Linked DNA regions of Homo sapiens. The protein of the gene in region 3 interacts with the protein of the main gene of each other region in a pairwise test. Each region holds a gene or a part of one and is shown on either strand. Other genes may lie near its edges.

Region 1 (7,364 bases), on a different chromosome or scaffold from region 3:
AGTCAAGGGGGTTTTTCTAAGCAGGGAGCCCTGGGGAGGGGGAGGGGGAGGGGGAGGGGATATTCCTTGCTTTTTTCCTTATTTCTTTACATTTGTCTTCCTTTCCTTTCTTCATTTTTTTCTGTCCTTTCCTTTTTAGAAAAAGTACATCTAGTACACTAGCCTTAGCATAAAAACAAAACCACAAGTCCTTTTCTGCATTTCGAGGGGGCTCCCCTCTAAAATAAATACCAGAGAAGCAGGGAGGTGGGAGTGTGGTGAGAGACAGACCGAGGAGCACGGAGGCCAGGTCTCAGACCTTAAAATCCAGGAAGGACTCAGAAGGGTGGGGGCAGGGACAAGTGTGTGTGGGGCAAGGAGTGAGACAGAGAGTCCGAACTTTTCACTGTTTCTCCGTCTCCCCCCTCCAGCCCCCAAACAAATAAAGAGTGGGGGAAGTCCAAAGGTAATAAAACCAGAGCTGCAAGTATCTGACAGGTAGTTAGAGTTGTGAGTGTCATTCTATTCTCTATAAAAGCAAATGACAGTCGTAAACTTCTCAATTTATCTGCTACCATAAAACGAAACTTCAAGGGAGTTGCTAAGGGGGGGGGGGTCTTTCTTTTTTGCTTAGTCCTTGTTTTCTTCCTTTTCCTCCTCTTCTTTCTCCTCTTCCTCATTTCCTTCTTCCTCCACCTTCTCCTCATCTCGGGCTCCCGGCAGTTTATCCTTGTTGTTCTCCTTTTTCCACTTCATCCTTCGGTTCTGGAACCAGATCTTCACTTGTCTCTCGGTCAGTCCCAGGGCATGAGAGACTTCAATCCGACGTTTTCGTGTCAAATAAGGATTAAAGAGAAACTCCTTTTCTAGTTCCAAGGTCTGATACCGGCTGTAAGTTTGCCGTCCACTGCGCCTCCCCGGAGCTGGACAGAAGAAAACCCCAGTCTGGTTACGTTTGGATGGGGGCTTGGTTTTCCTTTGCCACTCTTCCTACTCTAAACTCCCCTCTCTGATCTCCTCAGTTCGCCTCCCCTCTATGGAAAAGGCTAGAGCAGAAGGCAGACAAGGGCAGAAAAGTTGGGGGATTGTTTTTGTTTGGCTTCACCTTGGGAGGTGGGGTGGGGGTGGGGGCTAGGGTCTGTTTGGAAACTGGGGCCTTTCAGGGGCTGGGGAGCCCTGTAGAATCCCCCCCACCAGGCCTGTAATCCTAGGAACTGGCCTTTGCAGCTTTGTTTACAAGTGCAGCAGGGCATTTAGTGAGCGAGGCTGGGGACAGACTGTTTCCAAAAGAAAGGAAAAAAAGCTGGGGGTAAAGAAGAGGGGCTCTGCCCACTGCCCTCTCCTTGTCTCTCTCTGCCTAATGCTTTTCCAATAAGAAAAATAATTGATCTGCTGGAATGTGTCACCGCTCCGCCTGATTGCTAACTGGAGACCAGCAAATAAATCATGGGCCATCCCCGCCGGAACTTGTCGCTTTATCGCTTCCCCCTGTACTTCGAAATTGGGCCATGAGGGGCCACCCTTGGAGGGGCTCATGACCTAAGCTACTCTGCAGGTCTCAGGGAGACCCCACAAGTCCTTGATTGGGGGGGCGGCTAGGGTCTTCTGGACCTCAGGAACCCCTAATCTCTATGGCCTCTCTCCTTTTGAGCACTCTTTTTTCCCCCTCCTCTCAGGCTCCCCCGTCTTCTCCCAACTGGGGGAAGTATAAAAAAGTTGGGGTAGTGGCCCTCAGGCTGGTTCTCTGAGAGGAGGTTATGGGTGCCCTAGAGAGCCAGAGAGCCTGTCCTTAGAGTCTCACCACACTCTGGCTAGGGCAGAGCAACAGGGGTCTGTCTCCCTTTGCCCCAAGACAGCCTGGCCAGTGTCCTGGACTCCAGGCTCCCTGCCTCTGGAGAAACTGGTTTGTTCCAAAGGCTGACAGTCTCAGGGTACTCAGGGTACCATTCCCAGCCACCTCCCCAACTTTGACTTTAGAGATGGGGAGTGGGAGAGTCAGAGAGAGACAGACAGACAGAGATGGAGAAAACGATTTTTAACCCTTTGCGGCCACACACCAGCTTTCTCTCACCTTCACCCCAATCCCCTAAATGTTCTAGGCACCCCCTCCCTGCCCCGCCCCAGCGGAGCCTTCCCAACTTCGAGAAAACCACCCAGGCACAGGCACGGGGGTGGGGCGGGAGAGACCCCAAAGCCAGGAGAAAAAGCGAGGGCAGACAAAAAGGAGGCGAGGGAGGGGGGGAAACCCTGGAGCGCGGGAGACCAAGGGGGAAAGAGAAAAGGCTTCTCACCGTGGGGTCTCATCCATGGAAACATGAGGCTGGGAGACGAGTTTTGATTTAAGTGGCCTTGTCCTTCGCTACTGTTAGTGTTGGCGGAGGATTTACAGTCGGGATATTGCACCACGCTCGCCTCTTGCTGAGCCCCATAAAGGGACTGTCTGGGGAGCGCCTCGTAGCCATAGAATTTGGAGGCGTCTCCGTGGCAGCTAAGCGAGCACGGGTTCTGCTGGTAGCCTGAGTTGGAGATGCCGGAGGTGCCGTGGTGGAAGAAGTCTTGAACGTGGTGCGAAGCGTGCTGGAAGCCGGGCGCCGAGCCGCCGGGCCCGTACACCAGCGCATGGCTCCTGCCCACGCTCTGAGGGAACCGGCAGTCGTAATAGGCCGGTTCCAGGGACTCGCCGGCTTTGTATTTGGAGAACAGGGGGTTGACGAAGTAGGAGCTCATGCTGGGTACATGAAAACCCGCGGCCCCCTCCCCTCTGGCTCACGAGTACCCCGCCCAGTACCCCCGAAACTCCCCTCCCCCCGGGACCGAACCCCAGGCCAGCTGGCTCCCCGGGACTGGGCTGGGCTGGTGGGCTGGGGGCTGGGCAGGTTGGGGGGCGCCTCGGTGCTGAGCTCGGCCGGATCAGCAGAGCTCCCGGGGCTGGGGCGCGGGCGGCGGCGGCGGCGGGCGGCGAGCGGGCGGCGGCGGCGGCGGCGGCGCTCCTCACTGTCGGTAGGTAGAGCTCGCGCTCTCTCACTTAGCTCTTTCCTCTAACAGCCCAGGCGAATTCCTCAGACTCCCGGCGGTGGCGGCGCTTACACGCGATTCGCGTTCATCAATCCACGACATGAAGACAGGCGAGAGAGAGAGAGAGAGAGAGAGAGAGAGAGAGAGAGAGAGAGAGAGAGAGAGAGAGATGGCGGGGGTTGAGGGGTACAGGGCTGGGGGGACCTGGAGGAAGGGGAGGGGAGGAGAGGGGGAGGGATGGGGGTGTGTGGTGTGTGTAGGGGGGTGGTGAGCCAGCCCCAGCTAATGGCTGGGGCCAGTTTTCCAGGGTACGAATTTAGATGTGAAGGTGCCTCTCGCCCCCAGCCTCGCTTCTCTTTTCCTTCTTCTCAGAGAGAGAGAGATACCTGAGCCAGCAGGTCAACCCAGGTTACCTCAACAGGTATAAGACCTCCAAGGGGATGAATACCTGCAAGCCAGAGCAGGGCCCCTAACCCAAAAGATGGGCTTCCTAGGGGGTCCCTAAGTCTGGAGACTTTGAGGAGGAACAAGCACACCATACTCCCAAATACTTCAGGCATCAGACCCTCCATCCCCTGGCCCCTCCCCAGGGTCCGAAGCTGTTCTGTCTTCTTCCTTAGATCCAGGAGACTCTCTTGCTACCTGCTATGGGTAGAGGAGAGGGTCAGAGGAGGTGGGGCTGGGGAAAACTCCATATACCCAGTCAGGGCCACACTGCCCCTTCAGACACGAGCCCCTGCATGGAGCAGGAAACCCAGGCAATGGCCACAAGCTTGGCTAGGGGCTCTGAGAGCAAAGCTGCTTATGGAGACTAAAAGGAAAGGGCAGCTGTGTGTCCCTGGTTTCTAGCTGGGCTGATTCAGGACATTTCTTCTTAGGAGACTATTTGCATCTGAGTTGGAGGGGACTGGAGCAGGCCTCTTACTTGTCCCCACATACCCCCATGCCATAGGAAATGCCAGCTCAGCCTGGTGGGGCCCCTGGCTTCACTGCAGCTCCCTCTTCCCCAGGCAGGCTGCCCAGGCCAGGATGTGGATGGGAACTATCAACAGACACTCTTTAAATATTTATCCACACTTTCTCTGGAGGGTTCCCCCATCCCCAAGACTGAATACGTTCAAGTTAATTCTAATGGATTAAAGAACCTTAGTCCATCAGCACCCTTCTCTGGCCATAAGTGTGTACAGTGATTTGGGCTTAACACAGACAGAGAGAAAAAGGGAGAAGGTGAGAATACATGCATGCTGTGTGCATATGAATGAAAAAGATGAGTAAGAATTATTTTTCCAGTCCTCTCCCTCACCAGGGTGTGAGGCTGTTACACCCAGGAAATCCTAGAGCACACTCAGGACACACACACACTGTACGTGCTACTTTTCACCCTGAGACACATCAAGTCCATGCTCAGTGTAAACTAGCACACACATGCCTGGAAGCATCCCTGCCACCTCACAGACACTGTACGCACATGTGCACACCCAGGCACACATGCATACATGCCTGACAAACACAGATGCATCTTTAGGTCTTTGCATTATGAAAGCAAAATGCTACCTGTTTTTCTTCCACATCCTGGGGGTTTCAGGGTTGGATGAGGAAGGAGGTGGTTAGGCAACCAGACCTTTTCCTTCCCCATCCGGAGCCCAGCTCTGGAGATGGAAGAAGGAATGGCGGTTCAGGGCAGGATGGTTTAGAGAGAATGAACACCTCCTCCCACCCAACCCAGTCCCCCTATTATCTAAGTAATTGCTGGGGAAATGGCCACTCTCTGTCAAATTCCCAAAGGAGATTCACTGGTGCAGGCAGCAAGAGCTCCCTCCAGGATCCCCTGCATTTGGGGAATCCCACCCCCATCTCAGGAGCTGCCCAAACTCTTAGACACCCAGAACTCTGGCATTGGAGCAGCACGAGGGAAGGGTCAGAAGAGGGCTGTGCCAGGGCTGCAGGCCTCCCTAGGGTCCAGAACAGTAGGGGTCAGGACAGGGCGTCTCTACCCGTACCACAGCTCGCTTCAGCCTTGGCTCCAGCCCTGCCTTTTCTGAGCCTGCTCTTCGGGTGCTGCGATGAACAGAGTGGACTCTGGGCTCCCAGCATCTGGGTCACTGGAGACTGTCATAAATACTTTCTCTTCCCAGCCTGGAAAAAGGAGGCCCAGAGGGCTGGATCCGCTCTGGGGCCTGCGCCTTATCATTTAGGGGGTGGGGTGGGGGGATATTTCGACATTTTATGGTCCAGCGAAAACCCTGCCAGAGAGCTATTCTTCCGGGGCTTTGTGTCTTGGAATGCGACTGTCCCGAGTGTGCCGCCACCGCCGCCTGCCCGGAGAGCCCACCAGTCCCGCAACCCCTGGCCGGACTTGGTTTCCCCTTTTGGGGATCCCTCACCGTTCTTTCATTTGTTTGTTTGCTTTCTTTTACACGTTATCTGGTTTATTTCGCTCCCCGAGCCTGGAAATAAAGGAACCGAAAGCAGCCATCCTCGCCGAGGCCGTCTCTGTCCCTCTCCCCGAGGCCTGCACCGCCCTCATAGGTACCACGGATTTATGTTCGTTTGTCCGGGTCATTCTGCCTTTTTGTGTTAATTACGCGCTGCCTGCTTTGCACTTATCTCCTCCACAAAGCGATTATTTTTAATGCCTGCCCTCCTGAGCCTTCCGAGCCCGCTGCCAGATCGAGGGCCCATCTCCCGCTGCCACTCGCGAATTATTTACACCTCGCAGGTGAGAGGATTGATTTGCTCAGAGCCAGTGGGGCCGGGCCGGCCGAGGCGCGGGGCCTTCTTGCAGCGGCTGCGGGCCGGGCCTCAAATGTCAGTGCGGCCAGGGCGGCCCGGGGCACCGCCGCCTCTAACATTGAGCAACAGCGCCACCTCGCGTCCATTTGGTCCAATGCAGTCCGGCTGGGAAAAAGCTAACAAGAGGTCCCAGGCTTGCCCCAAAGGTGGGAAGTGGGAGGAAGGAACCTCCAGATGGGTGCTCAAGAGAGAGATTCCCTGGGAGTTGCCCCAGGACTGCTGTTCTTTTGTTTTCTAAGTTCTTGAAATAAAACCTTGTGAAAGGTTCCACACTGTTTTCTCTTTTTGTTACCCTCCCTTCTCCAATTAAGAGACTCTAAGCAAAGCAACTGCCGCGATCTCCCCCCATTCAGGCGCATTTCTGGGCTTGGAACATCTCCGCGAACGCGGATGCACGCTCCGAGGCTCCCACGACGGCTTGCCCGCGGCGCGCACCCTAAAGTCCTCCCTCCTCTTACCCTGATGCTGGCCCCGCACCGACTATTCCGCCGCCGCCTGCAGGACTTTGGGGTGGGACTCGGACTTCTCCAGGCTGTTTGACCCCTGGTTTGTAGCCCATCCCTCTCGCGCGCGCGCTCTCCACCTCTCCCTCTCAGCCAGTGAGGTCCTGTTCTCCGTGGGCCATAGACAAAACATTCCTATAATCCGATTTCAAAGGAAAGTGTCCACCTTATTTAAACCATAAAACAATTAAGCCCAGACGTCTAGCCAGCTCCGCGCTGCTGTTTTGTTCGGCCCCATTGAGAACCCAGAACAGGGAGACAAACAGCGCCATAAAAGTGGCATTTCGGGGCTGCGGAAATGTACCTATCCGCTGCCTTCTCAAGTGGAACAATCTTTAGGGTTTTGTGATTCTGACAAAGGAGCAGAGGAGAGGTGGGAGGGGAAGATTAGGGGAAGAGGGCGTTTGCTAGCCCCTCTCTACCCCCAGCTTTCATTTCTTTCCCCAGATGCGTGTTGTGTTGTTAATTCGTAAATGATAGCGAATAAAAAATGATTCCAATCCTGACCTGCAGGCTGGGCTGGGATTGAACAGTGGGCCGGGCCGGGTGGGCCTGTTCTGCATCCCATGCTTTCCTCAGGGTCCTCCAAGCCCGCGGCCCTCCTTCCTGCCCGCAGTAAGGCCGCTCAGGCCGGCTGCAGGAAGCAGGCCGCGCTGATGGACGCTGAGGGGAGGCGACAGGGCCTGGGAGCAGGGGCGGGGTGGAAGCCCGGAAACGCCGCTCTCGGTCTGGGAGAGAAGCCCGCATCCCAGCGCTCCCGACCAGGGGAGAGAGGGGTGTCTTGGCCTCCACTGGGTGGGGAACAGGAGTCAGAGTTCCAGAACAGCAAAATGGCCAAAGAGAGGTGTGAGGAAGGAGAAAAACTATAGGCAAAACACCTTTCAAATGGACCAAGAAAACAATGCTTCTGGAATTGGGGAGGCGGTCTCCTAAGCTCGAAAGAGGAGCTGGTGCTTCAGCGACTGCGAAGTCCCTTGTTGCGACTTGATTGCCCCCCAGTATTATCGAAACAAAATTTTCACCCCTTCCTACCCTCCTCCAGCCACCGACATTGGAGTTTTAATAGAAGGAGAG
Region 2 (7,756 bases), on a different chromosome or scaffold from region 3:
CTAAAAATACAAAAAAAAAAAAAATTTGCCAGGGGTGGTGGCGGGTGCCTGTAGTCCCAGCTACTCCGGAGGCTGAGGCAGGAGAATGGGGTGAACCTGGGAGGCGGAGCTTGCAGTGAGCTGAGATCGTGCCACTGCACTACAGCTTGGGCGACAGAGCGAGACTCTGTCTCAAAAAAAAAAAAAAAGTAATGTAGGGCAGGGGATGGGATGGTGAGGGTTCTATTTTAGAATGACAAAGAGACAAAACAATCAAATGCAATAGGTGGCATGGATTGGACTCAAATTCAAAAGGAAACCTTTATAATAGACATTTTGGAGTCAACTAAGAAAATTTGAATATGGACTGAATCACACATCATTTAATGGAGACATTATTTCCTTAGGTGTGAAAAGGGGCCGGGCTCAGTGGCTCACACCTGTAATCCCAGCATTTTGGGAGGCCAAGGCGGGCAGATCACCTGAGGTCAGGAGTTCAAGACCAGCCTGGCCAACACGGCGAAACCCCGTCTCTACAAAAAATACAAAAATTTAGCTGGGCGTGGTGGCATGCACCTGTAGTCCCAGCTACTCGGGAGGCTGAGGTAGAATTGCTTGAACCCAGAAGACAGAGGCTGCAGTGAGCCGAGATTGCACCATTGTACTCCAGCCTGGGCAACAAGAGCAAAATTCTGTCTCAAAAAAATAAAGGGGGGTATTGAGGTTACGTGGGGGACTGTTCTTGAGAGATACATGCTGGAGTGTTTAGGATGAAATGGCAGGATAAGTGCAACTTCAAATTTAAAAATATACAAATGTTTAACAAATATATAAATAAATACAGCAAAATATTATTCTTGAGTCTAGTTGGTAAAAATACGGGTGATTTTTGTATTCTTTCAACTTTTTGGGGCATGGTGGCTCACGCCTGCAATCCTTGCACTTTGGGAGGCTGAAACGGGAGGATTGCTTGAGCCCAGGAGTTCAAGACCAACCTGAGCAACATGGTGAAACTCTGTCTCTACAAAATAAAAATTAAAAACTTATCCAGGATTTGTGGCACACACCTGTAGTCTCAGCTACTCAGGAAGCTGAGGTGGGAGGATCACTGGAGCCCAGGAGGTTGAGGCTGCAGGGAGCCTCGATCGTGGCACTGCCCTCCAGCCTAGGCAGCAGAGTAAGACCCTGTCTCAAAAAAGAGGGGGCCTATTGAGCAACCCCTTGGCTCTGAGGAGAAAACAAACCCCAGGATTCTGCACCGGAGAGGCCTCTGCCCCCAGTCTGAACATGTGGTTGATGCGGGCTCTCCAGACAGGTCACTGGACTCTTTCCACCACACATCCCCTGTCTATTTATTCTTTAACTTGTTCTTTTATAAAACAGGTGCCAATCTACCAATAAGTAATGTACATTCTCAAGTATAAGAATAGGGGCTCAGGGCTGGGCGCAATGACTCACGCCTGTAATCCCAACACTTTGGGAGGACAAGGCAGACGGATCACCTGAAGTCAGGAGTTCAAGACCAGCCTGGTCAACATGGTGAAACCCCATGTCTACTAAAAATACAAAAATTAGCTGGGCATGGTGGTGCGTGCCTGTAATCCCAGCTACTCAGGAGGCTGAGGCAGGAGAATCGCTTGAACCCAGGAGGCAGAGTTGCAGTGAGCCGAGATTGCACCACTGCACTCCAGCCTGGACGACAGAGTGAGACTCCATCTCAAAAGAAAAAAAAAAAAAAAGAATAGGGTCTCAGCTAGCACCTACCTCGAGAATACTCAGCCTACTTTGGAGACCCCTGGTTTGAACTGGGAGTGAAGGAAGCAGGCCGTAGTTCTCGTTCATCTTGGTATCCCCAGCATTTGGCATAGGAGCTCATTAACTGCTCATAAAATGAATAAATAATTGAACTAATGAATGAACAAGTCTGACCTACTGGAGGCCACATGAGGAGTGCAGGGGAGTGGAGGAGCAACAATCCAAGGTCCTTGGGCTCGGTCCTGTTCCAGGGGCCTCACCTCTCTTGCAGAGCCTAGGAAGCCCCCTATGAGCCAACCTCACTCTGGCCCTAAGGCTGCAGAGATAGTGGGGTTTATTTTAGTTTTATAAAATTCACATGCAGGCTGGGAGCAGTGGCTCACGCCTGTAATCCCAGCACTTTGGGAGGCTGAGGTGGGTGGATCACTTGACATCAAGAATTTGAAACCAGCGTGGCCAACATGGTGAAACCCCAACTCTGCTAATAATACAAAATTAGCTAGGCGTGGTGGTGTGCACCTGTGATCCCAGCTACTCGGGAGGCTGAGGCAGGAGAATCGCTTGAACCCAGGAGGCAGGGGTTGCAGTGAGCCAGGATCGCACCACTGCACTCTAGCCTGGGCAATAGAGTAAGACTCCATCTCAATGACAACAACAAAAAAAATCACATGCAATATTTAAACTTCTGGGGCCAGTAACCTATTTGGGAATCCAGTGTAAGCTAAGGCTCCCCTCCCAGCAAACCCACATTCTGAAATCAGATACTCCTCAAAGTTTGCACAAGATCTGAGATGGTTCAGGGACTCCCCACTGCCAAGTCCACATGCGGGCTCCAGGTAATGAACCCCAGGACTCCGAGAAGCCAAGGAAGCTCATGGCTTATCTTACTTAGTGAGACCTCCCTGGGTTGACATCTCGCCTCTCAGCTGCTACAGGGCTCCAGGCCCCCTAGTCATTTTCAGAAGGGTTTGCAATGAAGAGAGGAAGGGGCTGCTGAGCCCAGTGGCCTGGGGCATCGCCAGCTCTGGACCTGGGTCTTCTCTAGGAAGAAGCCTCAGCCCCCACCCACAGTGGGGTGTATATGACCCCCTAGTTCTCTAATGGGTGCTGCTGGCAGACCCAGGCCCCTCAGGCAAGCTGTTTTTGGCCGTTCTCTGAGCTCCTGCTCCATGTTTCTGTTTTTTGGGGTGGATAGGTACCTGCTGGAGTGACTCAGGTCCACAGGGCACTTGTGCTGGCCTGACACACACAGATCTGAGTGCTTCAACCAAACTGGGACTCCTTCCACATTGTTCCCAAATCCAGGAGCAAGCCTCTCTGAACACTTTCTCTGTGCAGAACAGCTCTCAGATGACCAGGAAAGGTGGCGACTCACACATTTGCAACCAGCACCCCTGCAATCACTCTGAGAGGTAGCAGTGGAGGAATCTGTTTACAGATGACAGCATGGAGGCTCAGGGAGGCTGTGTGACCATCCCATTCACTCAACCACCCTTTTATTGAGCACCTGCTATGCACCAGGCATGGTGCTAGGTGCTAGAGAGTAGCTGCCCTTGGAGTCACAGTCCAACAGTGTGGCGAGATTCCTAAACATCATTTCAAACCAATGTGGCAAATGCCATGTAAAAGCCATGGCCCAAGGGTTATGGGGACACATAAACCAACTTGGGGTGTGGAGAGGTCAAGGAAGGCTCTCTAGCACGTGGTTGGTGCAACGTCTTCAAGGACAAGAAGGATAAACTGGGCTCAATGTCATGGGAAGGGACCAGCCTGTTGAAAAAGCACGGTGGCTTGAAACCGCATGGTTTGGACAGTGCTGTGCCAGCAGTCTGGTGTTGTTTGGCATTGCTGGCCAGTAAGCCTAGAGAAAAATGGAGCCCTGGCTGGGCATGGTGGTTCACGCCTATAATCCCAGCACTTTGGAAGGCCAAGACGGGTGGATCACCTGAGGTCAGGAGTTCGAGACCAGCCTGGCCAACATGATGTACTAAAAATACAAAAATTAGCCGGGCGTGGTGGCGGGCACCTGTAATCCCAGCTACTCGGGAAACAGGCAGGAGAAGCGCTTGAACCCGGGAGGCAGAGGTTGCAGTGAGCCAAGATTGCACCACTGCACTCCAGCCTCGGCGACAGAGTGAGACTCCATCTAAAAAAAAAAAGAGAGAGAAAACAAAAAGAAAAAGAAAAATGAAGCCCTTCTCTGACCTGAACACCCGTGGTAAGCAGTGGCAATGGAGAGACTGCTCTCAGAGGACTGACGGGAGGGAGGGGCCAGCTCTGTAACCAGCTTGTTAAGAACAACTGTAACAAGGCATCGAGTGCCAATCCATGCCAGGTCGGCACTGACCTCTCCAGGGTATCACTGTTCACACTGTAAGGAGATTTAAGTAGCTTGTTGAAGGGTGCACCGAGGACCCGACCCTTCCTCGGCTCTCCCTCTGGATACAACGTGAGGTTAGGGGTTGGAGGCTGAGAGGACCCCGTGAACTGCAGAGCAGAGCTGGGACGGGGAGTCAGGCCTCCCGACCGGGCCGGGGGCACTCCCTGGGCCCATGCCTCGCGCTGGCACGGAGAGCGGGGAGGGGGGTACGCGGCTGACGACCGTCGGGGCAGCAGCAGCAGCACAGCCCGGCGTTGGCTAGCGGCCCAGAGTCGGGGCAGGGAGGGTTCCCGTGCGGACGGGGGCTAAGAGGCCGCCTCCAGCCCGGGGCAGTCCGCGCACCCGAGCCTGGAGCCCGGAGCCTGGAGGGGTGGGGAGGCCCCGCGCCCAGGGCCGGACCGGAGGGAGAGGGAGAGCGGTGGCTCCTCCCCCGGCCCCCGCCGCTAGCCGATCGGGGCGCTGGGCGGGCGCCGCGGGAGCCGCAGCCCTTTCCGGGGGGCGGACCCGGCTCCGGCGGCGGCACCCAGCTCCTGCCCCGACAGGTGCGCGCCGCGCGAAGGAATGCAGCCGGTCTGACTCACCAGCGCCTCCTTCCTACCTGCGCGCCCGCCCCATAAAGCGCTGCCCGCCTCGTCCCCACCCCCCCAACCCCCGCGCCCGCCCTCGGACAGTCCCTGCTCGCCCGCGCGCTGCAGCCCCATCTCCTAGCGGCAGCCCAGGCGCGGAGGGAGCGAGTCCGCCCCGAGGTAGGTCCAGGACGGGCGCACAGCAGCAGCCGAGGCTGGCCGGGAGAGGGTGAGTGCCCGCCCCAGCTGGGCAGCCGCGCAGGGGAGCTGGTCGGGCAGGGCCGGTGGCTTTTGTCTCCCCTTCCCCTCCCTGAAGGCTGACAGGCCCCGGTCCCTCTGTCCACGCTGCGCAGGACAGGTGCCCAGCCTCCCCGGGGTGCGCCGGGGGCAGCTGGCAGCCAAGGGGCAGGGCAGCTAGAGAAGGGTGGTGCCCATCAGACCTCCAGGCCAGAGGAGCGCCTTGGGTGCGCCTGCGGGAGAAGTGGGCAGAGGCCAGTGGCTGGTAGCCCTCTGGGGCTGGGCCCCTCCAGGGTTTGCAAAGAAGGTGGAGTAGACACCAGCCTGAGTGCTGGGCCCAGCCCATCATGGCGCATCTAATGATAAACCAACATTCCTGACTTTTATGTGAAATTTCGTTCTTTCTAACATTGGCTCCTACTTTTAAAAGCCACCCTGAGAGGCAGACGCCATCCCGGCTCCAGGCAGGGCTTGCTCTATGCGGTGCCACAGTCCATCTGGGGCTGGGGAGTCCCTGATTTTCCTTTTCTCTTGGCCAAGCACAGGCCTGCCTTCCTCCCAAAGTCAGCCCCAGGCGCCTTCCTTCAGGAAGCTCTACAGGCCTCACCCACCAGCCCCAGGGCTGTGCCCAACACTGCCACCTCCTGCAGCATCCGCCCTCTTTCCCATGGCTCAGCCTCTGGGGTGGCCCTCTGGCTGGGACTGGGGCTCTGGGGCTCCTGGTGACTCCCAGGAGCAGGGACAGGGCTTCTCCTCTGCCCCCATGGCCTTGCCACACCCTGAGGACAAGGACCAGGCACAGGTGGCATGGTTGTTGCTGTCCGAAACAGAGCTGGCAGTGAAGGCTTGGAGTCTCCATCCTGGGGGCTGAGGGAAGGACAGCAGGAGGGACAGGAGGGGAGGTATGTCTGTCTACTCGACCCTGATTTCTCAGGGAGACAGAACAGCCAAGGGCCTGGGGTCCCCAGACTTCTGGCCAGCTGCCTCTCTGGGGCGAGGAAGGGCCTGGGTCCCTGAGGGGAGGAGATGTGACAGCGGGAGAGGATAGTGGACAGGAGCAGGTGTGCCCAGAGGGGTCCCCAGGGGTTGGGATGGGGGCCAGGGGAGCTCTGAGCCTGTGGGTGGGTGGGCATGGCCTGTGTGTGTGTGTGTGTGTGTGTGTGTGTGTGTGTCCCTGTGGGGGGGAAACTGCCTGTGCTGCAGTGTGATGGCATTCAGGGTGGCAGTCACACACTCCAGGGACCTGCTGGTACATAAAGTCGGGGCAGCCTGGTGGGGTCCGGGCCGCCTGGAGAGTAGGTGTCCTGAGCGCTGGGCCCAGCCCATCGTGATACATCTAATGATAAACACAAATTCCTAACTTTTATGGGAAATCTCGTTGTTTCTAACATTGGCTCCTACTTTTAAAACTTTCTAAACAAATGAAGCCAAACACTCTTGGGTGCCTCGCCAACCCTCTAACTGCCATTTTGTAGCTTCTGCGTGGAGGCTGCCATGGAGGTTAAAGGCAGGGCCTGCAGAGCAGGGCCCTGTCCTGGCCCTCCCAGTGCTGTCCGCGGGATGGGGAAGTTCCACAGCCTTCTGTGCCTGGTCTCTCATCTGGGAAACGGGCAGAATGAAATCATCTCCCGCCGGGCTCCTGTGCTGAGCAATCTCCTCCGTGAAGCCCTGGGCTCATATGGCAGTCACAGTGTGGGAATCAGCACTGCCTGAGGGGCTGTGGCCAGGGACAGTGGGAGGAAGAGCTGGGCTCAGCTCTCCAGGCCTGTACCTGCCTGTGTAATGATGCCTGGGAGGCCTGAGCCTGCAGCCTGTATTGTGTAGCATGTGGGTGTGGCGGCTACACCCCGAGGCTGCAAGGAAGTCATTTCCCTCTAGGAACCCTGCTGTCCCCACCCTTTCCCTGCTGGCTCAGGGCTGCCTCCCAGTCCCTGTGCCACAACAGGTCTGACCTGCATGTGTTGGCGCTGCTGTGGCCTCCTCCAGGCTGCACGCCTTAGAAGCAGGCTACGCCTTCCTGCCCTTGGCCTGAGAAGGGCTTCTCCAGCACCTCGGGGACCCCAGCCCCCAGACCCTGGGGTGGCCACTGCCCCAGAAGCCGGGCTGAGACAGGATTCAATGGGGAGGGCCCGTGGGCAGGGCAGAGGCTTGGGCCCCTGGGAGACCTGGCCCTAGAGAAAGAGGCGCGGTGCTCACCTTTGCCCCGGCCTTGCAGGCCTGGATGGCTCTGCCGCCAGCCTCTTTTCTTGTCCAGGCTTCAGGCTGAGCATCTCTTAGAGGGCCTCAGGGATGTCCAGTCCTGCCCTGAAGGCCGCTGAGGACTTAGGATGGTTTAATACTGAACCCACAGCCGCTGGGGACGCCTTGAGGGGAGCCACAGTGTGTGTGCATGTCTCACTCTGGGCTAACTTGTGAAAGGGTGAACAGCTCAGGGGCCCAGAAAACTTAACTCTGGGGCAGGCAGAGGTACAGGGGAGGGCAGATGATTCAGACCCCACCCTGATGGGCCGGGCAGTCACTGCAGAACCCAACCCGGTGCAGTAAGCCACTGCGGGCAGCTGTGGCCCAGCCCCAGGCCCCAGATATTGGGAGGGGCCCCTCTCCTCCCGGCTGTGCCACCCTCACCAAAGGGTAAGTGGGCCAGGACAGAAGGAGCAGGAGGCAGAGCTGCGGCCCCCTCTCAGGGAGGCACCCTCATTGGATGACCCTGTCATGGCCAAGCCTGACCCAGGCTCACTGGGAGCTAAAAGGCAAAGAAGAATAAACCCACATCTGCCCTCAGGGAGCCCAGTGCTGAGAGGCCTGGCACTGGGACAAACTCGCAAACCAGAGTCCTTGA
Region 3 (7,248 bases):
AGGGTGACAGAGTGAGACTCTGTCTCAAAAAAAAAAAAAAAAAAGGAATAATTCTCAGAGCTGGCTGACCAAGAGACAGTAATCAGAGTAGGGTGTCTGATGGACAGTTTCAGAGGTACAGCCATTGGGGGAGATGACAGGATAAAGGGTGTAGCCATAGATGGGTGGTGGTGAAGATCTCTGAGATGAGGAGCTCAAGGAATTGAGAGGCCAGGGTGTGGACATCAGGTAATATTATAACACCATTATTAGATGGAGAGAGCTGCTGAGAACTACTGCCAGAGTGAGTTGAGTAGAGTGAACTGGAGGGGTAGCGTATGATAGAGCTAGGTGACATGATGAAGGTAGTAGCCCGGGATGAGGGTAGGTTAAAGGGTGGGATGGCACAGGTAATGGAGGATAGTGGTTCTGGATAGTGCTTCTGGCTTATCTCGTGCCTTCCCATCTGTTTCCTGTAGATTGACGTGCACCTCCACGATGCCCTGGGCCGGCCACATCAGTGTGGGACAATTCAGCTTGACTTCCAACTGCCCCTGAGATTTGACCTCCAGTATAAGGGGTATAAAACCTTGCCCTATCCTCTTTTCCCTTGACAGTGCATGGAATAAGTCCTTCTGCCTTTGGCCCTAAAAACTAAACCCTCCACACCCTCTCCTGCCAGAGCTGAATATTTCTTAAAAACTGGAAGGTGATCTTGGGTACACAATTCGTGATACTTCCACCATTCCATCCACCCCCCCCTTTTTCCTTTCAAGGCAGGCGGGTGCCCTGGAGCGTCCAGTCCTCATTCACCGAGCAGTGCTCGGTTCTGTGGAAAGACTGTTGGGAGTGCTGGCAGAAAGCTGCGGGGGGAAATGGTGAGACCTCTGACCTGGATTTCTGTTCTGGCCCCAAACCGGATAGTTATGCTCCAGATCCTGTCCCCCTTCATATGCCAGCCTCTTTCCTTCTCAAGTCTGCTCCATACAAGCACACTTCTGGCCAGAGCCAGAGTGACTAATTTGCCATCACCTGTTCTTTCCCTACCAGGCCACTGTGGCTGTCCCCGTTCCAGGTGGTGGTCATCCCTGTGGGGAGTGAGCAAGAGGAATACGCCAAAGAGGTAAGGAGTTGAGGTAAGGGAGGGGGCAGAAGCAGGTCCAGTAGAGAGTCTGGTGCCCTGCAGTGGGCAGGAAGAGGCTGCAGGGGTGGTAGAGGAAGGAGCACAGCCCTCACAGCCACAAGACTGGGCTCGAGTGGCTGCTGTCCTAGATGCTGGAAATCCTGTATCTAAAAAATGTGACTAATGCCTACCTTGTAGAGATGTATGAAAATTAAACAAATTAACAAATGTTGAAAGCCACCAAAAGAGCACTTGGCACAAAACTGGGATTGAGTACACAGTTTTATTTTTCCTTTCTAGAGAGAATTGAGGATATGGATGGTACCAGAGTCAAACAGCTGGTTGGGTAGAGCAGTGGCTAGAAGGCAAAGTCCACGGAATAACTGGGGGGTCATCTCCAGTAGGAGGCAGAAAGATTGTGGGGTTGGGGATGAATGGGGAGGAGGCCTCAATGTGGAGATGAAATGAGGAGAGGTTGCTGGTAAGAAGTGGAGAGCCCCGAGGCAGGGAAAGGAGGAACAGATGGGGGCATTGAGGGAAAAGAGCATCAGACTGTTCTAGCTCCTTAACTTTCCAGTAAATTAACTTCCTGTCACCAAACCTCTGTTGCAGGCACAGCAGAGCCTGCGGGCTGCAGGACTGGTCAGTGACCTGGATGCAGACTCTGGACTGACCCTCAGCCGGAGAATCCGCCGGGCCCAGCTTGCCCACTACAATTTTCAGTTTGGTAAGCTGAACCTCAGAGCCAATGTTCTCCCACCTGCCGTCTGCATTCTTGCTGTTAAGTTTACCAAGTCTGGTAATGCATATTTGGGTTAATTGGGGCTCATTACCTGAGCAGGTAGGAGCCAGGATTCAGGACACCTGACTCATTTGGGCCCTGTGTTCCTTCACATTGCCCTGCCCTCCCCATAACCACTTCTGACACTCAAAATAGTTTTCCTCTTTTTAACTCCACTCTAGCTGTTGGTGTCTGTTAGGTTAATTAACCAAGGGAGCATCAGAGAGAAAGGGACGGGAGGGTTAATACAGCGTTAATTACCCTTGTTTATTTTAGACCTAGATGGAATCAGCCCTAAGGGATGAGGAGAAAGGCCTTAGGGAGAAAATTCTGGCACTGCCATGCTCCCTTTTTCATTTTCCAGGGTTCAGGGCTCTATCTCAAAGGTGAGGAGCAGAAACTCCTCAGCCAGATTACCTGATTCTTGAGTTTTGCACACCCCACTCTCCCTACAAGCACCCAGAGCAAGCTGTGCTGCAATCCCAGGGACTTGTACATGGCCCCTTTCCCTCCCTTACCGCCCAGTCAGCCCCTGCATACATCCTCCTCAGCAGAGGCCCCTCACTCTGTGAATCCAGCCCTAACAGACACCAAGAGCCAGAGTGGGACTGATGAGAGGAAACTGTTCTAAGGGTCAGAGTGGTTGGGGGGAGGCGGGGCAGTGTGAAGGCCACACCACTCCTGCCACCTTCCACTTGCTCTAATACCCCCTTCAGACACGCGCGCGCACACACACACACACACACACACACACACAGTTTCTCTCTGTGGGGTTCTCATTGTTTGTCTTTCTCTGCTTGACTCTAATGTCTCTGACACACACACACACACACACACACACACACACAGTTTCTCTCTGTGGGGTTCTCAGTGTTTGTCTTTCTCTGCTTGACTCTTATGTCTCTGACCCTGGGGCTCTTGACCAGAAGCGATAAGGCCTGCGGGGACTGAAGCACTTCCTTGTCTCCTCAGGATGAGCAGGACTGGTCATTTAGTATTAGCAGACACAGCTGAATACTTCCTTTCTGTGAACCATATCTGGGCTCTGCTCCCACCCTTCCTAAAGATTTAGGTCTCTCAAGTTTCTGCAGAGCAAAAGAAACTGTTCCATGTGGGTGAATTTGCCCTGAGGTTCCCAAACTTCCTCTACCTGCAGTGGTTGGCCAGAAAGAGCAAAGTAAGAGAACAGTGAACATTCGGACTCGAGATAATCGTCGCCTTGGGGAGTGGGACTTGCCTGAGGCTGTGCAGCGACTGGTGGAGCTACAGAACACGAGGGTCCCAAATGCCGAAGAAATTTTCTGAGCCTTTGTACATAGATGAGGCAAAAACCTGCGAGTGCCATCAGCCTCCCTCACATGGGAGACCCCAACCCAGCTGACAATGTGGAGCCCCCAGAACTTCAGAACTGTGTGGAGGCACATGTCTGCTCTCCTGAAAAGAGACTTGGTTTGGGGACCCCACAAAAGGAGGGAAGCTGTAGCTGTTTGGATGTGAGGAGAATGAAACTACAAAAAAAAATAAATTGGGCCAGGCGCAGTGGCTCATGCCTGTAATCCCAGCACTCTGGGAGGCTGAGGCGGACGGATCATGAGGTCAGGAGATCAAGACCACCCTGGCTAACACGGTGAAACCCTGTCTCTACTAAAAATACAAAAAATTAGCCGGGCATGGTGGCACACGCCTGTAATCCCAGCTACTCAGGAGGCTGAGGCAGGAGAATCGCTTGAACCCGGGAGGTAGAGGTTGCAGTGAGCTGAGATTGCGCCACTGCACCCCCCTAGGCGACAGAGCGAGACTCTGTCTCTAAATAAATAAATAAATAAATAAATACAAACTGGAAGCTGCTGGTCATATGTCTTCATCTCTGACTCTGGAGAGGTGGGATAAAAGGATGTTCCACTTTGTCTCCCTCTTTTTTGTCCCAGAGAGTTAGGGAAATTGAAAAGGGACAGTCCAGACCTCACACTGGTAGGGGAGATCCCTTGGATAGGTTTCCTGCTCCCCGCTGTAAACTCCTTTGTGCCCTGTTTCCCCAACCCCAGTTCATGAGTTGGCAGATCCCCTCTCCACAGAAGGCAGCCTGTAGATGGAGAAACTGAGGCACAAACTAGGGGCTCAAACACCTCTTGCTCCTGGATTCTCTGAATCAGTTTCTCTTGAAGGTCATAAGAATGTTCTCCTCTAATCAGTCCCATTCTTCTCAATCCTCTGAGGAGGCTTCAGGGTGACTTTGGGAGGAGTGGCTTCCAGAGGAGGAGCAGCTGGGACTGAGTCATGGCAGGAAGCTGAGGAGGGCGGGAGATCACACCAGACAATTATAAAAGAAGAGCTGGTCCTGAAGCTCACAACCGTAACAGCCACCAGACAAGCTTCAGTGGCCGGCCCTTCACATCCAGACTTGCCTGAGAGGACCCACCTCTGAGTGTCCAGTGGTCAGTTGCCCCAGGATGGGGACCACAGCCAGAGCAGCCTTGGTCTTGACCTATTTGGCTGTTGCTTCTGCTGCCTCTGAGGGAGGTGAGTTGGGGGATCAGCACTTAGGAGGGGGTCTGGGCTTGCATGGCAGGGGTCTGGGTCCAGGCATCCCAGACGGCTCATCACTAGCAGAGTGATTCTCCGTTTGGCTTTCCTTTTCTGAGCAGGCCCAAAGTGGGCCTAGGCCAGTGGAGCCTTTAACCAAGGAGGCAGAGAGCAGGGGCACAGAAGGAGAGGGGTTCCTAGAAACTGCTGCCAAGAAACACAGAATCCCAGTCAAATAGACAACTGAGTGGGGGGTGGGTTCACAGAGTGAGGGTCTCCTGCTGATGAGGATGTAGGGAGGTGGCTGGTGGGAGAGGCAAGGGAGGGAAAAGGGGCCCCCAGGCTGCTCAAAACCGGATTGCTGGCCCAGCAAGCCTCGACTGACTCCCTGTCTGATTAGAGGAGTTGAGGGGTGTCCATCCACAGACCCACCCTCCATCCAGCACAAACACATTCTTTATCTGCTTTGATGCCTGAACAAAACAGGAACCCCTCAATGCTATGGGTGGAAACTAAGAAAAAAAGGAAAAGAAAAGGAAAAAAACCACCCAGGGCACTCCTGCAGGAAGCTGCTGAGGATGTCAGCAAATCTGTCCACTTCTCTGTGAAGCCCCATGCCATCATTCTTCCCAGCTCCTGGTCTTTTGTGTCTGCAGATCACCTACAAGTGACCCTTCCCTGTGCCTGTCCCAGTCCCCCAGGCCCTAAATTGAGACCTAAACTAAGGCGGAGCTGAGACTGGCTGAAGGGGAAGCACTCAACCTTCAGGAAGCCTCCTTAACCAAAGGCCTAAAGATGTTTCAAGGGCCTGGAGTAGGAGGGTGGGTGGAGGAGGTGGATTGGGTAGGCTCCAACCAGCTCAAGGTCCAGACTTTTTCCTCTGAAAGCTAGAGACGCATCCCAGCAGAGACTGGGGAGGACAACCCACAGCCCTGAGGGAAAGACTGGCAGAGGAAATGAGGGCCTCCCTCCCCAATCCCGTATGCCATACTCCCTTTAGGCCCAACCTCTGAGCCAGTAGAGGTGGAGCTATCAGACCGCCACAGGCTTTCTCAGAACCCAGCTGGTCATGTCTAGGTGTGTTGGGGCTGGGAGAGGATTAGGGGACACGGGGCAGGTGAATACAGAGGGGCATCTCGTGTCTTGCTTGTCTGTCCTACACTCTTGATCTCCACAGCCTCCCCATCCCTTGCTGAAGTCCAGGGAAGGCCCTCCCAGTGGCCCCTGACTTGCCCTTCTTCCCTCCAGGCTTCACGGCTACAGGACAGAGGCAGCTGAGGCCAGAGCACTTTCAAGAAGGTAAGAGTTTGGGGGAGCAGCATGGGATTGGGACTCCAGGAGGCACTGTGGGCTCTGATGTCTCCCCTCTTGCTTCTAGTTGGCTACGCAGCTCCCCCCTCCCCACCCCTATCCCGAAGCCTCCCCATGGATCACCCTGACTCCTCTCAGCATGGCCCTCCCTTTGAGGGACAGAGTCAAGGTAAGGTCACCATCCCATGCCCTCCTCAGTGACCCTCCAGGTTTCTAATCTGGCCTATATCCCACTTTTCAGGTGGAAAGGAGGGAAGAGGCCCTCGCCCCCACTCCCAGCCCTGGCTAGGAGAAAGGGTGGGCTGCTCACACATTCCCCCTTCTATAGTGCAGCCCCCTCCCTCTCAGGAGGCCACCCCTCTCCAACAGGAAAAGCTGCTACCTGCCCAACTCCCTGCTGAAAAGGAAGGTGAGCGCTTGCCCACCCTCCCTCACCTCTATCCCACTATGGATCCTGTTGACACCAGGCTGATCCCTGCTCCTTGGTGCCCTCACCCCTATCTTGCAGTGGGTCCCCCTCTCCCTCAGGAAGCTGTCCCCCTCCAAAAAGAGCTGCCCTCTCTCCAGCACCCCAATGAACAGAAGGAAGGTAAGCAGCTCCCTCTCTTCTTTACCCACCTTTACCTCATGGCCTTCCCCCAGAGCATGGGCTTCGGGGCAGACAAGACGGTGGGCTCTGCCACTCACCAGTTGTATAACCTTGGGTAAGTTACATACTTCTCCAAGCCTTTGTTTCTTCATCTGTAAAATTGAGGATATACCTGTTTTAGAAAGTTATGTGATTAGATGTGCAAAAATAGCATCTATTTTCACTTGCTTCTCTGCTGAGTTCTTCTTTGTGCATGTAAACTAGCCAGGCTTTCTCTGCTAGAGATGGCCATCCCAACATGGCTTTTGCTTACTCCTTCTACCCAGTAGACCCACCTCTTCCATATCAGGAGGAGATAATCATCCATTCCATGCCGAGAGAGGGTGAGTGACAGCTTTGGTCTGTCCATCCTCCTGCCTTAGTGCTCAGGACCCTGGGGAGAGGAGCAGGAAGCCCGAGCCTTGAGAAGCAGGAGGAGGTGGGGGCAGGCTGTGAGCTGACACCTTTCACACCTCGCTTCTCTTTTCCTTTCAGTTATTTTAAAAGGAAGAGCCACAAATTGTTCTTTCTCATTTCCACTATATCCTCCCAACCCTTTCTCCTCCACCCCAGATTCTTTCAATCCTCCCAGCTCATCCAGCCTTTGTGGGTTCCTTCACATGTCCCCGCTTCCCACTGTTTTCCCCATTCCAGGAACGCCAGCTCCATTTGGGGACCAGAGCCATCCAGAACCTGAGTCCTGGAATGCAGCCCAGCACTGCCAACAGGACCGGTCCCAAGGGGGCTGGGGCCACCGGCTGGATGGCTTCCCCCCTGGGCGGCCTTCTCCAGACAATCTGAACCAAATCTGCCTTCCTAACCGTCAGCATGTGGTATATGGTCCCTGGAACCTACCACAGTCCAGCTACTCCCACCTCACTCGCCAGGGTGAGACCCTCAATT
Region 4 (7,041 bases), on a different chromosome or scaffold from region 3:
AAACCTGCTGCTGACAGGAGCCAGCCTGCCCTTTCCTTGGGGACCCAGACCCCGCACACCCAGATAGGAAAGAAACCAAGGCCTCCTGAGTCAAAGTGCCCACCATGGCAATCCAAAACTCCAGGAGGGAAAATGAAGGCTTTCTGGATTGACTTACAAGGGCAAACTCATCAAGGGCACCTGCTGGGAGCTCGACTTAGGTTTCTTCTCTGCACTTGGCTTCAGGCGAGAGCCGTGAGGAAGCTCTGAAGAGCCCTCATCCCTCAGTCTCAGTTTCTCCCAGTCCCTGTTCTAGGCCACAGATTGCAGAGAACACCTCAGGGTACAAACCACAGGAAGGTGATCTAGAAGGGCCAGGTGAGGAAATAAGTGCAGAGAGGTTAATTGACTCATCCAAAGATGCACAGCTAGTCGATAGCAGAGCCCAGACTGAATGCCAGGACTCCTGGAGGCTAAGTAGATCATGAGGAACACAGCAATTGCTCAAGGAAAAGGAAAATGCTAGAATGCACAGGGGACCAATTGAGACACTGAAAACCAGGCACCAAGACCCATTGGAATCTAATGAGATTAATTTTAGAGTAATAATATCATACTGACCATACTTTACTATGAATATACACTGTGCCAGGCACTTTACTGCATACTGCACATACATTATTTCACTGTGACAAGGATGGTTATCCCCACTTAACAGATGGAGAAACTGAGGCTGGAGGAGTATAAATAACTTACCCAAGACCACATGAATACTGAGGGGAAATGCCAAGATTATCCCCAGCCCTTCTGCCCCCAAAGTTCAGGCCTTGACTTGTTATGATACTGACTTTCATCAAAAGGAGGGCCGTGATTCATGCCTGTAATCCCAGCACTTTGGGAGGCCAAGGTGGGTGAATCTCTTGGGCCCAGCAGTTCAAGACCAGCCTGGGCAACATAGCAAAACCCTGTCTCTACAAAAAACACAAAAAATAGATGGATGTGGTGGCTCATGCCTTTAGTCTCAGCTTCTCAGGAGGCTGAGGTGGGAGGATCACTCGAGCCTCGGAGTTGGAGGCTACAGTGAGCCATAATCATGCCACTGCACTCCAGCCTGGGCCACAGAGTGAGACCCTGTCTCAGAAGAAACAAAAAAAGGAGAAACAATGAGCTGAATGTCCTCATTGATGTCATTTCTTTTAGGTTGCCATATGTTCAGGCCCTAGACTAAGACATCTTCTAGATGAAAGTTAAGACAAAAAGTATAAACCTCCCTGAGAGAAGTCAACTCATGAATGGGCTGGTTGGGCTACATGTGGGTGGTAGAGATGCTTTTTGGGGTCAAGCTTGGGCTTATATGTGTGTGTTTGCCATGTTGAACACTAAGACTCTGTGTCTTGACATTTGACATCTGACCTAGAACCAGGATCCTCCTGGTAGGCCAGGCCAACAAAACAGGGCCTATTTTTTCTAAACATTAGAAACCAAAAGATTTAGTAAAGTTGGTCAGACATTGATGCTGCACACCAAGGTCTATCTGAACAATTGACAGAGCTGGATTCCAGAAAGTTTAATTAGTAAGGGGATGTAGGGGAAAATCCAACATCCTTCCCAGGGAACGGTGCTGTGTTAATTCACTCCTAGGATCCCCTACCTATTACCCTCAGAATAAATCCTTGGCTTGCTTGCTGCCTGGAAGAGAAATCATGCAGGTGTTTCAGAGCATTAAGGAAGTTATTTCTTCCTCATGTTCACTCCGAGGTCAAGGACAAGAATGCTAGCTTTGGCGTTGGGAGGACCTCAGTTCAGTTCCCAGCCTGAACTTAAGTCTTGCACTGCAGTATAAAACAAGTGTTTTACTTTTCACTTCATCACATTATTGGATTTGATTATGTGGATAATCAGGGCTGCTCCAGAGCATATTTGCAGGGCAGTCTACGCAGTAAGCCATACATGGCAGCTCTGCAAAACCGGCACAGCAGACAGTGGTGTGAAGTCCACCCAGCAAAGCTCCCTCTCTTTCCCCATTCCCCATTCTGTTCCAGCTCAATGCAGGAAGTGTATGAAATTCACCCCCTATAAGCCAGGCCCTGTGCTGGGTGCTAGGAGTAGAGCTACAATGAAGTCAAGATTCCTGCTGCCCAGAGACTTCCACTCTAATAAGAGAGACACAGGGAAGTAAACATAATCTCAGTGAGGTATGAGGCATGCCATTAGAGGCATGTAGAAGAATGGAAACTGCACAGAGGAGTGTGAAGTTAAGTGTCTTAGAGAGGGGTAAAAAGACTTGCAGAGAAGTGATACATAAACCAAGTTTTGGAAGACGAACAGAAACAGTGAAAATGATAGAGTGAGCAGAGGGGAAGAGCTCATAGAAAGGGATAGAGTACGAATCAGAGGATCCCTGGGCTCTTTCAGGAATGTGGCTACTCACTTATTATGTCACCAGCACAGCTCACCAACTCGGACATATGGAGGAACAGCTCCTCTCACCTGCTCCCTGCTTGTGCCTCCATGGGTCTCTGACCCCCTTAGCTTAGGCCTCCTGCTCCTAATTCTGGCCTCCAGGCCCATGGCCCCAGTAACATGTTTTGGATCCATTTCCCTGGCCTTGACCTTCTGGACTCTTTTGGGCATAATCCACTCTACGATCGGCAACTGTGAATGAGAAACCCTCTTCCTTCCACCCTGCCCTGTGGTGTCCCAAAGGCCAGGCCAGCCCAGCTTCCCCAACAGTGACCAGATGCATACAAGGATCTGTAAGTGTCTCATGGAGCTAGATTACCACACATGAGTGGCAGTAGACATGGTTCCAGAAGCAGACAGGACACCAGTCCGATTCTGGCTAAGGAGTCCTGCAGACATGGGGAGCCACTGAAGGGCCTGATGCTGGGGACTGGCAAATTCTGAGTTGCCTTCCCAGGGGCTGCTCCAGAGAAGACAGGGTGGATGTATTGGAGAGAGAAGTACTAGGAGCAAAGAAAAAAAAATGCATGGAAGACCATTGCACTAGTTGAGCAAGACGTTGAGTAGGAGACAAAGTCAGGCTTCCCTGCCTTTTGTGGCTAAGACAATCATGGACCTCCCTGAAGGCAGGGGCAGAACAGACCTGAGGTCCCCCTCACTCTCTCTCGTGATTCTGATTGTTATTGAAAGCTGCCTCCTACCACATCACTATCATCATTCCTCCCCCGATTCTCTACCTCCTGCTTCTTTTCCTCCTCCTCCTATTCCTCCTCCTCTTCTTCCTCCTCTCGTCTCTCTCCCTCCCTCTGTCCCTGCTTCTTCTTCCTCCTCATCCTCCTTCATCTTCTTTCTCTCTCTCCCTAAAGCAATATGCCTTGCCTCCTGCCTCTAGCTCAAGCTGCCAGACAAGACAAAATGGAAAAGTAAGACAGAAAAGGAAGTCTGAACTATAAAAAGCCAGCTGAAGAGCAATCAGCACGTGTCTGGGAGAGGCAGACGCGACAGGAGGAGCTCGGCCTTACCACTGTCAATCAGAGGTTCCTGAGTAAGGAGACCTGACAAAGGTTTGGGCCTTCAGGAGTCTGGAAACCCTGGGATGCTCAACAACAACAACAACAAAAAACAACAACTTTTGTCATGGATTTCATCACCTAGGATCCTGGAGGAGGAAATCACAGCTCTCCCCAGCGATCCCGCCAGGCAGATGGTGGGAAATAGAGATCCATTGAATAGCACCCACAGGCTCATGTTCCGGCTTCCCTTGTGACCACCTGCCACCTCCACTGTGGCCCAGAACCATCTTCAGTGACTCTCCACAGGTCACAGCAACCTGTTTACAGACGGCTAGAATTCCCAAGCACTTTTAGGACAGGGGACTCGGGATGGTTCCAAGCAGACAGCAAAGTCTTCTCTAAGAGAAGCCGCTCCTCCCGATCTATTTTTGCCGATGTAAACACTTGCCAAGGAAACGAGGCATGTGGGCATGCGCCGGCCCTGCAGGCCCTCGGGTTGCTGCAAAAGGCAACTGGAAAGTCACATGTCATAACAGTGGAAAGTACATATGCAACTATTCTTAGCCCTGGAATGTATACACTGTCTCCCTGCCCAGCAGTCCTTGCACAAAGCTCTAGAAAACTATGAAAGTGCCTTCAGCATAAACAAATCCAGAAATCTCCCAGGACAAATCATTTGCCAACTGAAAGAAAGGCCTGGGGTTTATGGTTTCCCTTGGAGCTAGAGGTAGAAACTCTCCGGGGGGATAAGTCAGACCAGGCACCAGTGGATGTCACCGCAGCAAAACAAGGTAAGTGTCCCTCATACTTATTTCTTCTGCAAGTAGAAAACCAGGTGTCATCCAATAAACCAGGGGATTGTTTGGTCTTTCCTTTTATTTATTCTATCTTTAAAACAAGACTCAATGAAGTCATATTTAAATATATGCATCAAAGGTCCATTTTCTTCCCTCATTTCTGTCCAGTGACCAGAGGGCCACACCTCCAGAATATCATCCTTGGGGAATGATTGACACCCAGAAAGAGAGGTTTAGACATCTGTTACTCAATAACAGATATGCCATCGATCTGGAAAAAGGCTCATGAACTTCTGCTGGTCAAATCCATGGACTGTTATCTTGCTTCAGACTAACATTTCAGCTTCTGATAACAGAGTAACTTCCAACAACTTTAGTTTGTTTGTTTGGTTGTTTCTCTCAGATTAGCTGAAGATACTATTTGCCTATTACTTTTGAAAATAACCATAACCCAAAAGGGCTCAGGTCTGAGATGTATGTGGCCTTCCTTTCCAATCTTCCCTACACAATATCCATGGTGACATCCGCAAACATCATGGGGAATGGAATAGGAGCACTGGTCTTGGAGTCCCCACAGCTGAACCCTCCAGCACATGCAGCTGAGAAAGGTTTGACTCTTGCTGACTCTGGGGGCTTCCTTCCCTCTTTGTAGGATGGACGAGGAGTCACTAGATGGGCTGCTCTTCAAAGACCACGACTTCTCTTCTGACTTGTTGAGGCAGCTCAACAGCTTAAGGCAAAGCAGGATCCTGACTGATGTGAGCATCTGTGCCGGTGCCCGGGAGATCCCCTGCCACCGCAACGTGCTGGCCTCCAGCAGCCCCTACTTCAGGGCTATGTTCTGCAGCAGCTTCCGGGAGAAGAGTGAAGCCAAAGTGCAGCTGAAAGGCATTGACCCCCCAACCCTGGACCAGATCGTCTCCTACGTGTATACGGGGGAGGCACATATTGCCACTGACAATGTCCTCCCCGTGATGGAGGCCGCCTCCATGCTACAGTTCCCCAAGCTGTTTGAGGCCTGCTCCTCGTACTTGCAGAGCCAGTTGGCCCCCAGCAACTGCCTGGGTATGATCAGACTCTCAGAAATCTTAAGCTGCGAGACCCTCAAGAAGAAAGCCAGGGAGGTGGCACTGACGTCCTTCCCAGAGGTGGCCGCATCGGCCGACCTGAAGGAGCTCTGTGCCTTGGAGTTGAGGGACTATCTCGGAGATGATGGGCTCTGTGGGGAGGAGGAAAAGGTGTTTGAGGCCCTCATGGTTTGGATCAAGCATGACCTCCAGGCCCGGAAGCGATACATGCAGGAACTGTTCAAGCAGGTCAGGCTGCAGTACATCCACCCAGCCTTCTTTCACCACTTCATCGCCAACGATGCCCTCCTGCAGTCCTCGCCTGCATGCCAGATCATCTTGGAGACCGCCAAGAGACAGATGTTCTCTTTGTGTGGCACCACCGTCCCAGACTGCAAACTCCTGTTGCATGTCCCTCCAAGAAACTCTTACCAAGATTTCCTCATCCTCTTGGGCGGAAGGAAGGACAGCCAGCAGACCACCAGGGACGTCCTACTGTACAGCAAACAGACCGGCCAATGGCAGAGCCTTGCCAAACTCCCGACACGGCTGTACAAGGCCTCTGCCATCACCTTGCACCGCAGCATCTATGTGCTGGGGGGCATGGCTGTCAGCTCAGGGAGGAGTCTGGTCAGTCACAATGTCTACATCTTCTCCCTGAAACTCAATCAGTGGAGGCTGGGGGAGCCCATGCTGGTGGCCCGCTACTCCCACAGAAGCACTGCCCATAAGAACTTCATCTTCTCCATCGGGGGGATTGGAGAAGGGCAGGAGCTCATGGGCTCCATGGAAAGGTATGACAGCATCTGCAATGTCTGGGAGAGTATGGCCAGCATGCCCGTGGGGGTGCTCCACCCCGCAGTCGCTGTGAAAGACCAAAGACTCTATCTCTTTGGAGGAGAGGACATCATGCAGAACCCTGTGCGCCTTATCCAGGTAAATGGCCGGTTCTTCCCATCACGTAACTGCATGAGTATGTGTGCTTGGACACACCCACACCTGCTTGCACACACATGCACATGTATACATACACACCAAAAAACACATATATGCACATAAATATATATATGCACACATATACACAAACACACATATGCATACATGCGTGCACACATATATGCAGAAATGTATATTCATGCATACATGCATACACATATGCACACATATATGCAGATGCCAACATGCATACGTGTGCACATGCATACACATATACAATTCATGCATGCATACACACATTTACATATATCTACACATGCATGCACACATTTATACATATGCACGAACACAAATACGTACATGCATACATGCACACACATGTGCACCCATGTACACACATACCAACACTTGTTATTTGCAAGGAAGGAAGAGAGGAAGGGAGGGAGGGAAGAAGGATTTTCAGCAAGATATTTTTCAATTTATGAATTTTTTTGTGCAAAAATAATACATAACAAAGGATATCAAATACCATCCCTATGCACAGAGTTTATCTTCATTTGATGAGAAAAATATATATCTAAAAATTCAAGTTATTATACAGCATATTGAAAGTCAGATAGTGAAGTCCCATAGGAATTTGGCAGGTGCTTCTAACTCAAGTCAGTAAGGCCTTAAAAGAAGATTCCCAAGCCTTGGTCCACACCTCTGTGACCAAATCCCCTGGAACCTGACCTCACATCACTGAATCAAAATATCTTTGTGTGAGATCCTAAAATGTATGGTTTA

Evidence for each region.
Region 1: the proteins of ECM1 (region 3) and HOXC8 interact in binary tests that used the Homo sapiens proteins (3 or more experiments, as listed by UniProt).
Region 2: the proteins of ECM1 (region 3) and ITGB4 interact in binary tests that used the Homo sapiens proteins (3 or more experiments, as listed by UniProt).
Region 4: the proteins of ECM1 (region 3) and KLHL38 interact in binary tests that used the Homo sapiens proteins (3 or more experiments, as listed by UniProt).

What each region holds. Positions count from the first base shown.
Region 1 is NC_000012.12:54,004,627-54,011,990, reverse strand, and holds the start of HOXC8 (homeobox protein Hox-C8), read right to left. Parts: upstream 3,007-7,364; 5' UTR 2,707-3,006; coding exon 2,271-2,706; intron 903-2,270; coding exon 610-902; 3' UTR 1-609. UniProt on the Homo sapiens protein: Sequence-specific transcription factor which is part of a developmental regulatory system that provides cells with specific positional identities on the anterior-posterior axis.
Region 2 is NC_000017.11:75,716,704-75,724,459, forward strand, and holds the start of ITGB4 (integrin beta-4 isoform 1 precursor), read left to right. Parts: upstream 1-4,755; 5' UTR 4,756-4,909; intron 4,910-5,575; exon of another isoform or gene 5,576-5,724; coding exon of another isoform or gene 5,725-5,819; intron 5,820-7,756. UniProt on the Homo sapiens protein: Integrin alpha-6/beta-4 is a receptor for laminin. Plays a critical structural role in the hemidesmosome of epithelial cells. Is required for the regulation of keratinocyte polarity and motility.
Region 3 is NC_000001.11:150,503,877-150,511,124, forward strand, and holds the start of ECM1 (extracellular matrix protein 1 isoform 1 precursor), read left to right. Parts: upstream 1-4,232; 5' UTR 4,233-4,333; coding exon 4,334-4,403; intron 4,404-5,654; coding exon 5,655-5,705; intron 5,706-5,784; coding exon 5,785-5,886; intron 5,887-5,958; coding exon of another isoform or gene 5,959-6,045; coding exon 6,046-6,126; intron 6,127-6,225; coding exon 6,226-6,306; intron 6,307-6,999; coding exon 7,000-7,248. Other genes in the region: TARS2 (threonine--tRNA ligase, mitochondrial), read left to right, coding at 459-559, 756-857, 1,030-1,102, 1,715-1,829, 3,040-3,188. UniProt on the Homo sapiens protein: Involved in endochondral bone formation as negative regulator of bone mineralization. Stimulates the proliferation of endothelial cells and promotes angiogenesis. Inhibits MMP9 proteolytic activity.
Region 4 is NC_000008.11:123,650,791-123,657,831, reverse strand, and holds the start of KLHL38 (kelch-like protein 38), read left to right. Parts: upstream 1-4,030; 5' UTR 4,031-4,246; intron 4,247-4,420; exon of another isoform or gene 4,421-4,904; 5' UTR 4,905-4,905; coding exon 4,906-6,255; intron 6,256-7,041.